Regions from separate parts of the Homo sapiens genome. Here region 1 is linked to region 2. Evidence: fine-mapped expression QTL. A gene starts in region 2. The other region holds a variant in brackets. All regions are shown on one strand. Distances are between the middles of the regions.

What was found. PIP is the estimated chance that this variant, and not a neighbour inherited with it, causes the effect.
Region 1: its variant is fine-mapped to the expression of SNED1 in whole blood (TOPMed, PIP 0.98).

The regions. Positions count from the first base shown.
Region 1 is chr2:241,059,075-241,067,395 of GRCh38, forward strand. SNED1 (sushi, nidogen and EGF like domains 1) reads left to right here. Exons shown (of 32, transcript NM_001080437.3): 17 at 3,717-3,830; 18 at 4,513-4,626; 19 at 4,938-5,051; 20 at 5,770-5,883; 21 at 6,225-6,521. SNED1-AS1 (SNED1 antisense RNA 1) reads right to left here and starts at 5,044. Exons shown (of 3, transcript NR_187212.1): 1 at 5,006-5,044. It also overlaps a transcript of MTERF4 not described here. RefSeq lists a silencer at 4,993-5,152. The variant T/G (reference allele first, on the strand shown) is at 5,191.
Region 2 is chr2:240,994,488-241,002,808 of GRCh38, forward strand. SNED1 (sushi, nidogen and EGF like domains 1) reads left to right here and starts at 4,131. Exons shown (of 32, transcript NM_001080437.3): 1 at 4,131-4,563. The coding sequence starts at 4,351. RefSeq lists a silencer at 3,763-4,182.

The DNA of each region.
Region 1 (8,321 bases), 65 kb after region 2:
CATTAAAGATCCTGCCAGTACTTAAAGGACAAGAGAACACCTATGAGCAATTTTAGGCCAATGTATCTGACAACTTAGGGGAAATGGATACCCTGAAAGACAAATTACCAGAACTGACACAAGAATAATAGAAAACATATACAGCCTTATATCTGTTACACTTAATTTGTAATTAAAAACCTTCCTCAGAACAGCTGTGTCAGATTGCTTCACGGATGAATTCTACCAAATGTTTAAGAAAGGAATGATACCAACTTTGTACAACCTCTTTTAGAAAGAGCTACATATTTTTTAGAAAATCTAGGAGGGAAGAACACTTCTCATTTGATACCAAACTCAATTGATACCCAACTTATTTGATAACTTCTCAACTCACCTTGATACCAAAACCAGACACAGACACTACAAAATTTGAAGTTACAGACTGGTATCTCTCAAGAACATAGACACAACAATCCAAACAAAATATTACTAAGTCAAGCTCAGTACTATATAAAAGAATGATACAGTCATGACCAAGTGGGATTTTTCTCAAGGACACAGGTTGGTCTAACTTTTAATGTCAATCAATGTACTTCATCATATTAGGAGATGAAAGAGAAAACTATATATCTCAATAGATGCAGGAAATTATTTGACAAATTCAACTGGTATTTAAAATTCTTAGTCAACTAAGAGTAGAAGATAATTTCCTCAACCTGATAAAGGACATCCATTAAAAACCTCAGCTACCAGTGTACTCAGTGGTGAAAGACTCCACCTGGAATCCGTACAAGGCAAGGTGTCCATTCAGTACGTATTCCCAGCATTTTCCTGGAGGCCCTAGACAGTGCCAGATGACAAGAAAAGGAAATAAAAGGAAGGAAAGGAAGAAAGAATTAGAGATCACATGATTGTATGCATAGAAAATCCTAAGGAAATTCTACAAAAGAAGCTATAGAACTAACAAGTGAATTCAACTAGATCCCAGGATACAGGGTCAGTATATAGAACCTGTTGTAGCAGTGAACACTTTGAAATGAAAGTGTTACATTAATAGCATCAAAAACATGATAAATTTTTAAATGCGTAAAAGGAACTATAAACATAAATGTAAAAGCTAAAACTATAAACTTTTTTTTTTTTTTTGAGACAGAATCTCACTCTTGCCCAGGCTGGAGTGCAGTGGCACAATCTCGGCTCACTGCAACCTCCGCCTCCCTGGTTCAAGCGATTCTCCTGCCTCAGTCTCCCAAGTAGCTGGGATTACAGGCACTCACCACCATACCCAGCTAATTTTTGTATTCCTAATAGAGACGGGGTTTCACCATGTTGGCCAGGCTGGTCTTGAACTCCTGACCTCTGGTGATCCACCCGCCTTGGGCTCCCAAAGTGCTGGATTACAGGCGCGAGCCACCATGCCCGTCCCTAACTATAAACTTCTAAAAGAAAGAAATACAAAAGCATATGAGAAAATATTCATGAGAGCTGGAATACAATGGTTTTGTACTTGGAAAAATATTATATTGGTTCTCTATTTTTCATACACTGGAATTAAATCCAGGTGGATTAAAGACCTAAATGTTTCTTTAAAAAAAAACTATACAGGGCCGGGCACATGGCTCATGCCTATAATCCCAGCACTTTGGGAGGCCAAGACAGGAGTTTTGTTTGAGCCCAGCCTGTGCAGCATAGAGAGACCCCCAACTCTACAAAAATAAACTAAAATTAACCAGGCGTAGTGGCATGCACCTGTAGTCCCAGCTACTCAGGAGGCTAGGGTGGGAAGATCACTTGAAACCGGAGTTCAAAGCTGCAGTGAACTGTGATTGCACCGCTGCATTCCAGCTTGGGGGACAGGGTGAGACCCTGTCTCAAAAAAAAACAACCAAAAAAAACTATATAATTTTGTGTGGAAAATATAGGTAAATATATTTTTGACTTTGGGGTAGTGAAAGACTCCTTAAGCCACAAAAAGAATTTAAAAAGAAATGATGAACATACTTGACCATATGAAAATTAGAACCTAAATCCATAAACCTTAAGAAAGTGAAATCTAAACTACAAACTGGGAGAAGAGATAAATAGTCTCAAGACTACATGAAGAACTCTGATAAATCAATGAGAAAACAACCTAATAGGAAAATAGAAAAAAAAACATGCATAGGCATTTCATGGAAGAAGAGATACAAAAGGCCAACAAACATAAAAAGAAATATTCTATTTCATTAGTAATCAGGGAAATGCAAATCAAAAGTGCAATGAGGTACATTCAGCTGGTAAATTTTCAGAAGTCTGAAAAGCCTATACCGGTGAGAATGTGGATCAACAAGATTTCTTATGCATTGCTGGCAAGAGTATAAATTGCTAGAAGCACTTTGAAAACAATGTGGCACTCTGCCTGTTGAGCAATCTGCCCACTGTTGCTCATTTACGTCAACTGTGTTCCAGCAATTGCACTTCTGGGTATAAACCTAAGAAAAACTTCACGTCTGCACCAGGAGATGGGAAAGAATATACACAGCAACATTTTTTGTAAAAGCAAAAAGTCTAGGCTGGGCGTAGACTCATGCCTGTAATCCCAGCACTTTGGGAGGCTGAGGCAGGCGGATCACGAAGTCAGGAGTTCGAGACCAGCCTGGCCAACATAGTGAAACCCCATCTCTACTAAAAATACAAAAATTAGTCGGGCATGGTGGTGGGCGCCTTTAGTCCCAGCTACTCGGGAGGCGGAGGTTGTGGTGAGCCAAGATCATGCCACTGCACTCCAGCCTGGGCAACGAGCGAAACTCCATCCCCCCAAAAAAAAAAAAAGAAAAAAAGAAAACAAAAAAAGGAAAAAGTCTAGAACCAACCCAAAGACCCAGCCAGTGAGAATGGGTGAAGTATGATATAACCACACTGTGTAATGTTATTCAGCAGTGAAAATCTATGAACCACAGTGACCTACAGTGTGGAGTTCTCTTCTTCATATAATGCTGAGAGAAGACAATATATATCATGATGTACTATGAATAAAGTTCATAAACAACAAAAACATTCACTATTGTTTAGGCAATTTATAAAATTTTTAAGCTAATTTTAATTACATATTTTACTGCCAGAAAACCTAGTTTTTAAAGACAAGGAAATTATAAACCCAGAGATTCTTATCGCAAGGGAAGAGAAGGGTACACGGTCGGATGAGCCCATTCAGCATTCTGGCTGCCGGGGTGGCTGCTAGTCCCAGATGTCACTAAGTCATTACCATTTATTTACTTTTTAAGCATGAAATTAAACTTTAAAAAAATAAATATTTAAATTCAGGAGCACAACTCCCGCTTGAAAAGAAAGCTGTGGTGAATCATTTAAAACCAAGATTTGTCCCAGATGGACTGGTTTCACAGGTGACTATTATACATTGAAATGGCAAGATGGGACATGAGACATTTTCTGTCAAACCCCTGAGGCCTTTGTCCTGTCGGCCTGAACCACTGGAATTAAGTCCCACAGCGTCTTCTGGGAGCCCTGGGGTGGTTTCAAGCCCGCCCTGCTGCTTCACAGACACAGCCAGGCACTGAGCCCCAGGCCCACTGCCCTGCCCCGACTCCAAGGATATCCAGCCCTGGTCTCTGGCCTTTCCAACCACTGATGATGTATCATCGAATTCTGTCTGGCCCCTCAGGACTAGTTTATGTGCATCTTAATTTGGCTTAATCGTGGCCACATTGCTTTATTCTTGGGCTCTCTCCTCTCAGAAATCGATGAGTGCCGGTCTCAGCCGTGCCTGCATGGGGGCTCTTGTCAGGACCGCGTTGCTGGGTACCTGTGCCTCTGCAGCACAGGCTATGAGGGCGCCCACTGTGAGCTGGGTAAGAGGGGCCCTGGCCCCGCTGGGGTGACAGCTGCAGCACACTGGCCATGTGCCTGAGGCACTGGGTCCCCCGGACAGGTCTCTGTCTGGATGGCCAGGGTGGCCACTGCATGCTTTCTCGGGCCCCTGCCAGCTCTGACATCCAAGACAAAGATTTTACAAATATCCCTTCCTGCACCTCCCCAGGGGAGACTGAGAGCCCAGCTGAGAAATGCTGGCCTGGCTTCAGGGCGCAGAGAAGGTGGGCGTCGGAGAGGGCAGGTCACAGTCTCTGACACCTGGTCGGTGCTTCCAGCCAGTGGAGGGAGGGGAGGCCTGCCCCATGAGCCCTGCACACTCTTGTACCTCGCTAGGGCTCTAAGCCTGAGAAACGCAGGCTCCAGGGAGGGCAAGGCCCAGGGAGCCGTGCCCAGTCGTGGCCCTGGGGAGCCTCCCATTGCGGAGTGGCCTGGAGGAAGGCATGGCCTGGAGGTGGGGCTTTGCCAGCAGGCAGTGGAGGTGGCACGCCTCCCGAGGAGGGGTGGGTTTGGGGCTGATGGAAGAAAAAGCACATGTCCTGAGTAGTTGCTCCCAGCTGGGAAAGGGGTAACTGAAGCCCCAGGAAATGCACGGAATCCTGGGGGCATGTGGGCGCCTCAGACTTGAGCCAGCAACACCCTTGACACCCCTTCTCTGTGCAGAGAGGGATGAGTGCCGAGCTCACCCGTGCAGAAATGGAGGGTCCTGCAGGAACCTCCCAGGGGCCTATGTCTGCCGGTGCCCTGCAGGCTTCGTTGGAGTCCACTGTGAGACAGGTAGGGGCTCCCTCCAGTGGGCCCCACATGCAGAGCCTGGGCCTCTGGAAGATCAGAGAGGAGGTGGGGCATCCCCACATTCCCTGCTGGGCAGGCCACCTGGGGAGAGGGACCCCCAGGGCTGCGGCCACCTTGGGAGGGAGGGGTGGAGGTGAGGGTGCTGGGGAGGGCTGAGGGGCGGGACCTGCCCACTGCCCCTCTCTCCTGGCCTCCGCCCCTAGACTCCTCCTTTCCCTTCTTCCCGCTGTCCTCTCCTCCCTCCCCCAGACTCCCCCCTTGCAGCTTGGGCCCACTCTCTGGGTGTTCTCCAGAGGTGGACGCCTGCGACTCCAGCCCCTGCCAGCATGGAGGCCGGTGTGAGAGCGGCGGCGGGGCCTACCTGTGCGTCTGCCCAGAGAGCTTCTTCGGCTACCACTGCGAGACAGGTAGGGCGGCAGGCCTGCCTGCTCCCCGCCCTCTGCCCGCCTGCTCCCCGCCCTCTGCCCGCCTGCTGCCCGCCCTCTGCCCGCCTGCTCCCCGCCCTCTGCCCGCCTGCTCCCCGCCCTCTGCCCGCCGCCTTGGAAG[T/G]CCCCTTCTCAGGCCAGTGGCCCTCCGCCTGTCTCCCTTGGTCCCACAATGGTGCCTTCTAAACCTCCCCATCTCCTGCGCTCACCCCCCAGACACCCCTCTTCACCCGAGGACACACCCAGGGGTGGGGCCTCACGTCCACACATAGGCCCTGCTGCCCTTGGACAGGCCAAGTTTCTTGCACACCCAGGTCTGGCCCCTGGCTGTCCTTCCATCTGGAACATTCTCCCTAATCAGCCCCCAGTGGGATACCTCCTGATGAGGCTTCCCTGACCACTGACCTCCCCTCCTCAAGCAGGACTGTCACTGGGGTGGTGGCCTGTCCTGTCCTGATCCAGTGTCTCCTCCCCTCAGCCAGTCCGGCTGGTGGCACTCCGCTGTGGAGGGTGGAGGAGCTGCTGGGTTGGGCCCCGCAGGGCAGTGGAGGTGGCAGAACCGAAGGGAGGCAGTAGCTGTCCTGTGCCCCCCGCCCCTCCACACCCACGCAGGAGGGACCCAGTGCCCCAGGAGCAAGGGCGGGGCTGGAGCAGGGACCCCTGGCCACGCCCCAACATACACTGCCACTTTTTCTCCCCTCAGTGAGTGACCCCTGCTTCTCCAGCCCCTGTGGGGGCCGTGGCTATTGCCTGGCCAGCAACGGCTCCCACAGCTGCACCTGCAAAGTGGGCTACACGGGCGAGGACTGCGCCAAAGGTGGGTGGCGAGGGCGCCTCCAGTGAGGGAGCCACGAGGGGGTCCCCTCTCCCTAGAGGGCCCAACGGTCTCCAAGGGCAGAGCGTCTGGCCGCTGCTTGCCCAGGCCCCTTCCCTGAGGAACAGGGAGGGGATAAAATCCCCCGGTGGGCTTGAAACACGGTCACACATTCAAAAGTGTGACCCTCCTGGAGGTACGTGGCCAGGGACAAAGAAGGACTCTGCCAGCGATGGCTGTGTCAGGCCCAAGAGCCAGACCCGGCTGAGCCGCCGACGGGAGCCAGGCATGCATAGCTAACGGCTGACCAGTCCCCTCCCCTTGTTTTGACCCAAACCCTGAAGAGCTCTTCCCACCGACGGCCCTCAAGATGGAGAGAGTGGAGGAGAGTGGGGTCTCTATCTCCTGGAACCCGCCCAATGGTCCAGCCGCCAGGCAGATGCTTGATGGCTACGCGGTCACCTACGTCTCCTCCGACGGCTCCTACCGCCGCACAGACTTTGTGGACAGGACCCGCTCCTCGCACCAGCTCCAGGCCCTGGCGGCCGGCAGGGCCTACAACATCTCCGTCTTCTCAGTGAAGCGAAACAGTAACAACAAGAATGACATCAGCAGGCCTGCCGTGCTGCTGGCCCGCACGCGTGAGTGTCCCCGAGCCTGGCCGTCCCTGCCCAGCCCCTGCCCCTCGAGGGCAGCGCTGGCCCCGGCACCTGCAGGGCGGCTGTCATGCCGTCCACCCTCCTAGTTCTTGCAGCAGCAAGACAGACAGCTGAGCTGGGGGTTGGAGGCACCGCCCTGCTGGAGACAGAGCTGTGTGGGAGTGGCCTTGGGTCCACAAGATACAGGCATGGGATTGGGGCGCATAGAATCGAGCCAAGAGTGGGAGCAGCACAACCCCCAGGCATGGAGCTAGGAAGTGGGACTGGGGAGGAATGGGGGCTTCCCAAAAGGGTCCCTAGAAGGAGCCAGTGTGGGAGACAGGGGCCGCGGGGGTGGGCTTGGGGGGGCTGGGACTCTGGGGTGCTCTGAAGGCCTGGGGAGAGTTTGAAAGAGGCACCTGCTCACAGGGATATGTAGGCGCTGAGGTGTGCTAAGGGGAGGCATCGGTGGCTCAATCGGGAAGAGCCGTGGGGCAGGCCCTAGATGGAATGACAGACCCAGAGCCTCCACCTGGAGCTGGCACTGAAAGCTGTGACCAGATGTGACCCCTGAAGAGGGGGTCCTAGGAGGAGCCTCCTCAGAGCCTGAGCCACCAAGATTGCAGGGGAGGCCCGGGTTGTGCACAGCCTGTGGGGTTGTTGCCGTGTCGGGGAGCAGAAGATGCTGAGCGCTCTAGGGAAGGCGTCAGGGCTTAGCGGGCTTGTGTGCTGCTGGGAGGGATTCTGGGAAGGAGAAAGGAGCCCTAGAACATGGCAGTGGACGGACAGGGGCAGGGCCGGAAGAAAGCAGAGGGCTGGCCTTCCACGGAGCCCGGCCGCATCAGCTAGAGCACAGGGGATCTCGGAACAGGCTGGGCAGGAACCAAGTGGGGTGCAGGGCCATGGGGCCATGGGACTCTCACCCAACATGCCTGTGGCCTCCAGACACAGGAGCAAGAATGGGGAAGGGGTGCTAGAGGCTCGAGGAAAGAGGAAAAGGTGCTGAGAGCACAGACTGCTGCGAAGTGGCGTGATGGATGGATGGGTGGGTGGGTGGCCAGGGCTTCAGGGAGGCCTAAGCATCCAGCAGGGCCCTGCGGGGCGGCCACGTGAGTTTGGTGAAACCTATGGGTAGCATGGCGGGTAGGTGGGGAGGAGCTCGGCGGTTCTCACAGGAGGAAAGCCTCCTGGCCACACCTGGGCCCTAGCTTGATGCCAATGCCAAGGGCATTGAGGGACAGGAGAAGGCATTCAAGGCAGCTTGAGCCCACCCAGAGGCCCACAAGGGCCTGTCCTGCAGGAGTTGACCACCAAGGGGCTGGAGTTCCCAACACAGCAAGGACACAGAGCACACCTCGGCCAGTGGAGAGCCTGGGCGCATGTGCGGGTGGCACTGAGCAGGTGTCAGCAGGAGCTGCCAGGGGCTGAGTAGGGGTGGCTCGCCTGGGCTGTTTTAGGAAGAAGCACCTGCAAGGCCGCCCCATGTGAGATCTGCCCTCGGAAGGTATCTGGAGTGAAGACAGAGCCCGCCCTGCCCGCTGCAGAGTTGGGGCTCCAGCCAGCCATGGTGGGTGGAAGGGACCGCTGTCCACAGACCGGGGTGCTGAGTTGCCGGGAGCTGAGCGCTGCCCTCTGGGCTCTGCCTGGTGCATCAGCAGTGGCACTGGAGCTTCGGAGGAGACTGGCTGGGCGGGAAGCGGAGCTCACAAGTGGCCCCTTCCCTGCAGTTGCTGGGAGTTCTGTATGTCTGTCCTCCTAAGACAGCGTTGCCCAGACCAGGCCCGGATGTGTGCTCTTAGACCA
Region 2 (8,321 bases):
AATGTGGGGCACGCAGGGGCTGTTGGAGGGTCCCATCCAGCCTCTGGCCAGGAAGCTCCGACGCTCTGACAGGCCCTCAGGTGCCTGGGTCCGGGGGCAGCACCCTTTGCAGGCATCCAGGGGTTGCAGACCAACACAGGGAGGGGACAAATGGGAGAGGAAGGCCCCCTGGGGAGGGGGCACTGGAGGAGGGGCCATGTTGAACGCAGACGGCGGCACCCAAGGACAGGCCAGCCCTCTGAAGCACCCCAGGTTGAGGGAAGCACAAGCTTTGGTTGGCTGAAGCCGGGGCAGGAAGCCGGCCAGCTGGAACCAAGGGCATTGTTTATCTGGGCTTCCAAAACATTCATACTTTTCAAATTAATTGCAAAAAATGTTAGCAGGGAAACATAGAAAGGAGAATGTAACCACCACCATAATCTGTGACCTGCAGAGCCCCGAGGTGACACCCAACTCTCCCTTTTTCTAGCACACGTGTGCTTAGGACGGTTGAGGCCATAGCGTGGATGCTACTCAGAGTACTATTTTTTAAAACTTTTGCTTGACACAATACCGTTAGAGTTTTCCCGAATCACTAAAAACGTCTCAGAGCATGGTTTTTTTGCTGCGGAAGCTCCGGGGCATCGGAGGACCCTGGGCCTGAGTGTCCCTCCACTGCTGGCTGTCCCTGCCATCCTGGAGCCCACAGAGAATGGGGCTCTGTCCTGTCTTGGGCACTCAGGAGATGGACAAGGCTCTCAACGGGAGGCAGGGTCTCGTCATCCCCAGGACAGGGAGAGCCGATGCCTGAGCCCACGCAGCAGTGAACATCCTGGGAAGGAAGTGTTGAACCCCAGTCCCATCGTTTCCCTAAGAGCAACCACAGAAGTCCCGTCATGGGAGTCAATGTGTGTGCGGCTCCGTGTGCATGAGAAGAGGAGGTACAGGGCAGGCTGCATGGCCCCCACACTCCCTCAGGGCCAACTGCACCAAGACCCCAACCAGCCACACAGGACAGTGACCAGGTGAGCAGGTGGAGCGGCCCTTGGTCCCTGTGACCTCCTGGCCTCATTCCGGAGCATGTGGAGGTTTACTTGGGATCAGCGCTTCTGGGGCAGGGGACCTGCACTCCACCTGCCACTTCTGGGAGAGAAGGAGAGAAAGTTAGGGTGGGCTACAGCCAGCCAGCCCCTGCCCCTGGCAGCTCAGGCCTGAACCCCCAGGATCTTCCACCCTGTGAAGACCAAACAGGCCCAGCCAACCAGGTGCAGGTTGGGGAGGGCACCCCCACCTTGGCCTGCGTGGAGCCCCGAGTCCTGGGGCATCCTGAGGGCAGCTCCCGGGGCACCCCATCTAAATTGCACACACGCTCAGGCCCTAAATTAAAATGTCACAGGCCGGTTGGGGAGGCTCGGGTTTCCTGGCCACAGAACATGAGCCTGCTTGATAAAACAATTTTGGTTTTGATAAATGTGGATTTTCTGTGGCAGAGACAAAGGCGCCCTTGAGTCCAGAGGGGAGCCTAAAACAGCACATTGCTGAAAAGTATTTCCTGATAATATTTTTAGCACCTGAGAAAAACATTTTTTTTTCTCTTTTTTGCCTGCAGAGTTGTGTTGTTTTTTTTTTGTTTTTTTTTTTTTTAATGAAATGTAATGCCCAGCAGCAGCGGGGCCTTTTGTTAACCCCCAGCTCCCCGGGCCCGGCTGAAAATCTGCACAGGGTGCAGGCCGAGGCTGGTCAGCAGGGTACAGGCCCGAGGAAGTGTGGCCTCTCTGGGCCATGAGCAGGGTCTGGCCCACTGCCAGCCACGCCCCAGGCCCATGAGCTCTGACTCTCTGGGACGAGGACGGGCCTGAGCGTTTCCAGCACTGCTCAGCGACCCCCGTGAGGCCCACCAGCCCACCCGCCTGAAGAAACAGGCCTCCACTCGGTGCAGCCACTGAGTGCCACTGTGTGCCCCAAGGTGCCCTGGGCGGCCCTGCCCCCAAGTTGACCCAAACCCAGCCCAGAAATGGGTTGTTACCCAGGTCCCTGTCTTGTGTGCTCAAGAGAAGGTCAGCAGTGGGGAGAAGGGCGCCTGGCCTGGGCAGCTGGCTGGGAGGCAGCACCCCAGGCTGGGCTCTGAGAGCAGAGCAGGAGCATGTGGTGGGAAGTGGATGGGTAGTAGGGACAGGGCAGGAGGTGGGCCAGCCCTAGTGGGGGTCAAAGCCTCACGTCCCCATGACAACACCTCTTCAGCGGAGAAATCCTGCCCTGGGGTTGGCACTGCCGCCTCCCACCTTCGCAAACTCACCGGAGGGGCCTTCCAGCCAGGCCCCAAATGCACTGAAAAGAGGGTAGAGGGCTGCCAGGTTTTTCTAGAAAAAAGACAAATAGAAAAGCGTTCTCCCTGATTCCCGCCACGGTGACGCCTGGCAGCTCTGTTCCCAACGCTGCTACATGGGGCCTTGTCCTGACTCCACGGCCTGTGCCAGCCAGAGGTGGGAGCAGCCCTCCCTGACCAGGGAGGCCAGGGCTGGGCTGAGGAAGGGGTTAAAGCATGTTCTTGAGGCCCCACGTATGGGCATATGCTGCCTCCGTGCATGTGAATAAGTATGCATGTGTGCGTGGACGTGTGTGCATGTGCGTGGAGACATGTCTCTCCTTGCCAGGCTCTCACCGAGAGCCGGCCTCAAGTAGGGATTCTACAGTTCCACGCCCTCTCTGGTGCCTCCCTCCAAAGACAGGAGGCCTTGACCTTTCTGGCCCTGGAACCATGGCTGTGCTGCTGTCCTGGAGCTCTGAAAGCTGGGACGGTGACCTAAGGGCTAACTGCGGGACAGAGCCCTTCCCCTCCCAGGCCCAGTTTGCCTCTCTGCAAACAGAATTGCCACCCCATGCAGGGTGGGAGAGGCGCCAGGGGCAAGCTTTCAGGAGGTGCCAGTGCAGGGTCAGCTCCTCCTTAACAATTCTGCACCCGGCCCTGACACCAAGTCTAAAGGGTCATGAACCTCTGAGTGAAAACACCAAGTGCAGGATCTGTGAGAACCGGCAACACCCAGTCACACGCAGAGAACCCTCCGCTGCTTCTTAAAAATAACATTGACTGTGCCTGGCTCTCACTGAAAAACAACACGTGCTCACTTGAGATATTTCAGAAGATACAAACGCAAAGACAAACAAAAAACCACCCAGCACCTCAGTGGTAGATGCAGTTACCATCAGCCCGGCCTTTCCTGCTTGTCTTCGAGGGGTGCACTCTTATCTTTGGGGGCCCCAGTGTGGCACGCAGCCAACACCACCCAACACCAGGATCTAAGAGAAGAGACCACGGTGGGCCGGGTGAGTTCCAGGAATCAGACCCTGCCATGGGCCTGGGGACATAGAGGTGGTCCCGGCTGAGGCCCTGAGGAAGGACAGACAGGCAGCCCAGGCCAGCAGCCCAAGAGACAGGGGGCAGGGCTGGCAGGCCACAGGGTGGGGACCCTGAATTCAAATACTGGGACTCAGAGTCCTGCCCCCACCTGCCAAGGCCGGTGTCATGCACGCACTTGCCCCCAGGGCCTGAGTGGGTCAGTCTTCCCCACGGAGGGTTTGCTTTACCCAGGGGTCGCCCCGAGGTCCCGAGCCTCCCAGGAATTTCTCCTGATGCGGCCACGCAGATGCAAACACTTTGTTCCATGCCTCCTAGTCTCCGGCCCGGGCTCTTCCTCACACAGACCCAGGCAGGGAGTGGGCTCCGGGGTTAGTCTGCCCCTGTGGCTGGAAGCCTGGCGTCCCCATGCTCAGGGCTGGGAAGGGGGCAGCACGGAACGGGTTCATTCAGGCACTGCCTGGCCAGGGTCCCCTCCCGCCCCCCGCGTGATGACACGCCTTCAGGGCGGGCCCAGCGTCTCAGGCCTTAGGGACACAGGTCTGTCCCAGGACGGCACTGAGGGCCCAGGCGCCTCCACCAGGGTAGGGACCCAGGGCGGAGCATGGCCCCACCACAGGGCGCGCGCCCGCAGAGCCCTCACCTTGCCTGTGCCCACGCCAGGGGACTGAGCTCCCCGCGCGCCCGCGCCCTCCCACGGGGCCTGGCGCTTTAAGAGACGCCCGATTTGCATGGCCCCGCCCCCCCGAGTGACCGCCGGGCTGGATATTTAAATCGTGGCCCCAGGGGCGGGGCTGGCCCCGAACGCGGTCCCGCCCGGCGCTTTCCTCTGCGGAGCTGCGGCGAGAGCGCGGCCCGGCCGAACGGGCGCGGGACGCGGAGCCCCCGACGGCGCGGCCAGCGGGCGCGCCCGCGCTCCCCGCACCCCGCCTGGCCCTGCCGGCCACCCCCGCGCGCAGCCTAGTCCCCCAGCGCCCTGCTCCGCCAGCGCCCCGTCCCGCCCGCACACCTCCGCGATGCGGCACGGCGTCGCCTGGGCGCTGCTGGTGGCCGCGGCCCTGGGGCTTGGGGCGCGCGGGGTGCGCGGCGCGGTGGCCCTTGCCGACTTCTACCCGTTCGGCGCCGAGCGCGGCGACGCCGTCACCCCCAAGCAGGACGACGGCGGCTCGGGGCTGCGGCCGCTCTCGGTGCCCTTCCCGTTCTTCGGTGCCGAGCACTCCGGACTCTACGTGAGTAACCCCCGGGCTCGCGGGGCGCCCGGGAGGGGAGGGAGCTGCGCCCCGGCCGCTGCCCGCCGGGCCCGGACTCCCGCCGCCGCCGCCAGCCACTTGGCACCGGGGCGGCCCGAGGTGGAATGAGGACAGCGCTTCCTCCTCGGCGGCCAAGGCCGGACAGCGGCCCGCGGGAGAGGCGCGCGGGCGGGGCGGGGGCGGCAGCCGCCGGGCACCGAGGCGGGGGCGAGTGGAGCGCGGCGCCCCGGCCCCTGCCAGACCTGCCGAGCGCGTCTTCCCGGCGCCTGATTCCCAGGGGAGAGCAGGGGTCCTGGTACTGCCCTGGTTTTCACACATGGCAATGTGGCCGTGGGCACGGGCTTCCCGGGCCTCAGTTTCCCAAGTGGGGCGCCGGGCCTGCGAAGGTTGCAGCCCCTCCTTGGGCCATTTCAGCCCCGCCCCCCGTGGACGCCAGTGCGGCCCAGAGCCAGGAGGCTGGACCCCTTGCCCAGGCGCTCAGGGCAGGGCCTGCTTCTTCGCTGACCCTCCTAGGCGGGCTAGCAACAGGCTTGCCCCTCCCTGCCGTCCTCTCCGCAGTCTGGGGGCTGGCCGCTCAGGCTCAGACTCTCCAAACAGGACTCCCAGTGGGACTCCTGGGGCCAGGGACTCATGACAGCAGGCTCAGCTCAGCTGAAGGAACAGGCCCGAGTGCCGGTTCTGTCTCCATGGCTCCCAGAGTGTGACCCCAGGCCAAGCCCTTATGGCAGCCCAGGGAATGAAATGCACCTGGTAACTGCATGGAGCACTCGCCCTGAGTAGGCCACGGTGCACTGGTACCTGGTGGTTCCCTGAAACACCCCAGATCATATCTAGAAAACTGCTGGGCCAGCCTCAAGTAGAGTCCCCTCCAGCTCCGTCACCACGGCCACCTCCACCATCAGCCCTCTCATACCCTCGCCCACCTCCAGCCTCAACCCACTGCCAGCCACATCGCCTCTGCCATCTGTGCTGCCCGGAGTAACACCACCTGTACTGCCAACTCCTCCGTCAACACCACCTCCTTCAACCCCACCACCAGCAGCACTGCCTCCACCACCACCTTCCCCATGGTCCCCAGCTTCCCGTCGTCACCATCCACATCCTCTGCATGGTTGTCATCATCCCTCCCCACCTCCATCCACAGGGCCTCCTCCACCACATGCCCTCTAGTGCGCCTCCCACCCCACAACTGCCAACACCATCCACAGCGCCCACTGCGTTTTCCACACCTGCTCAGGAAGGCCTCCCCACCTCGGTGGCAGCACTGGGTGACCTGACTGGTGGGAGGGGCAGCCATGCTGTCGGTGCTACCCCCTGAAAGTCCCTCTGGACCGGGACTTGGACAGAGGAACGGGACTGACTCCTGGAAGTACGAAGTGGGTAGGACAGAATGGTGCTCAGCGTTGGCCCGAGCTGGAGGAGGCCTGTCCACTTGAGGTATGGGACACTCACATTGGCACCATCCGAACAGAACTCAAGAGGCTCCTTAAGCATTTGGGCCAGGCTCAGCTTTCCCACTCACAGTCACAGGTGAAAATATTATTAAAATGGTTAACCCACTTAACAGCCTCACCAAAAACATCTGCCCTTGCCAGAGCAACTAGGGGAAACAGCTCTAACGTGGGAAGATCTGCTAGGAGAACTAGGGTTTCGTCAGAAATGAACCTTCTGGCTGCTAACAAAACATTTATCTCCATCGGAGCTTTTTCCTGAAACAAAGATATTATTTGAAAACCATTTGCCGATGTGGACACAGTGCCTGCAGTGCACTTCACCTTTCTGTTTGCTCAGCAGGAGGCTTGAGGCTGCGTTGCCCAGGACACCTTGCCTGAAGTAACTGTGCGGACTCTGTGGTCAAGCAGGGAGAGAGAAAGGGGTGCTTGGCAGCAGGTTAGGGCTGAAGCCAGGTGGAAAGAAGGGAGGCATTTGTTCTGAAGGAAGTGGACCTGCCTGGGGCCTCCCACGCCCACCCAGGCCGAGCGGACCCTCTTCTGAGGCCCCTGGCTCTGGCCCTTGTCCAGCTCCAGTCTATAGGGGCCTCGTGTCTGCTGGCCCTGGACTCAGACTCCCATGTCAGGCCCAGCCAGGACCCTCCAGCCCCCATCCCACTGCAGTGACCTCTGCGCTCCTCCGCCCCCAGCCTGTCGCTTGACCAAGAGTAGGCTTGTTGTCTGAATGAATGAATGTGCCTCCCTCTGACACTGCCTGCAAGTCACAGGTAGAAATTAGAAGTGCTCTTGCATGAGATGGGTGCTTCTTCTGTCTTCATCAGAAATAGCACATGGATTACTGCCCTAGCAAGACAGCTCTGCCACACATGGAGTGGCCCCCTTTCCAGAAGGGACCCATTGTTTTGCTTCTTTCTCATGTCATAGTAGCTGTATGTGTGTGGTAAGTCGTAAGGCTCTGAAAAGTGTTGAAAGTGCATTTTATTGCTAAGGTTCTACACACAGACAAAGATAATGCAGCCGAGGAGCGTGGCGCGCCGAGGAGTGTGGCGTGCTGAGGAGTGTGGCATGCTGCCGCTATCCTGCCATGCAGGAACTGCCAGTGTCTGCATTAAGACGGAGCTTGCCGCGGTCTGTGGGGCTTATGCAGGTGGAGTGGTTTCCTAGGGGCAGGTGCAGGGAATGAGAGACGAAATCTTCCTGGTGCCCCCTACACTGAAGCTCCTGGCTCCAAGCACTGCCCCCATCCACAGCATGGTCTCTGGGCCATGGGAGGATCTCAGTTTCTTTGGCATCAGGACCCCCGACAGAGCCCTGAGCAGAGGCAGGGAGGATTTGAGGGTCAAGAGTGGGTGGTGCCCTGCAGAGCCCGCAGGCAAGAAGGAGGAATGTGGACAGTCAGACTGACCCTCGCTGGTGCTGGCTAAACCCCCACTCTGTGCCCTGAGGCTTCGTGCCACACCGCAAGTCTGCTGGCTCTGGCTCTGCACAACATTACCATCCAGGCACAGTCCCGGCCCTACCCCTCCCAGAACACGGAGCCCAGGGCAGCTGCTCTGGTGTGGGAGTTCACATGCAGCCTGTGACCTTTGCCTGGTCATTTCCTCCCTGAGCCTCTGTCTCCCCATCTGTGTGGTGAAGCTCCCCCATCAGGTCATACCTGTGACACACCCCATCACTGTCACGGTTGTGTGGTCGCCAGCTCCAAGCCATCTGGAAAATCCACCCTGACCCACAGGGACTGTCTCAGTGGGACCGAGGCCTGCGCATGAGTGGATCTGGGAGCAGACATGTGGGGAGAAATCACTGCCATCTCTGCTCTCTTCTGAGCTCATGGAACACCCCAGCAAATGCAGGAGCCCCTTGGCTGGGAGGAGGGTCCTGGGCTTCCCCTTGGCTGCCCTATTCACTGAGGTTCCCGGGCTGGCCCACCCCCTGCTATGGGCTTGGCCAAGGTGGTCCTGCCCCTCATCAGCATGCCCTTCTTGCTGCTGCCTGGGTGTGACGGAAGCAGATGGAAGGGGATCCTGGGGAAGTGGAATGGGGCTGGAGTCGAGGAGGATGCTGGAGTGAGAGAGCCTGATGACTCCAGGTCAAGGCCATGAGCCCAGGACAGCTGTGATCTGCCTGGACCTCACAGGCAGCCCCTGAGAGGATGGAGCAGGACGTCATGCCCAGTGCAGATGAGGAAACCGAGGCTCAGAATGCAGATTCAGGGGCCTTCAGACTCCTGCGTCCAGCTGCCTCTTACTGTGCCACCCCAAACTCAGTGGGACCCAAACAGAAGTC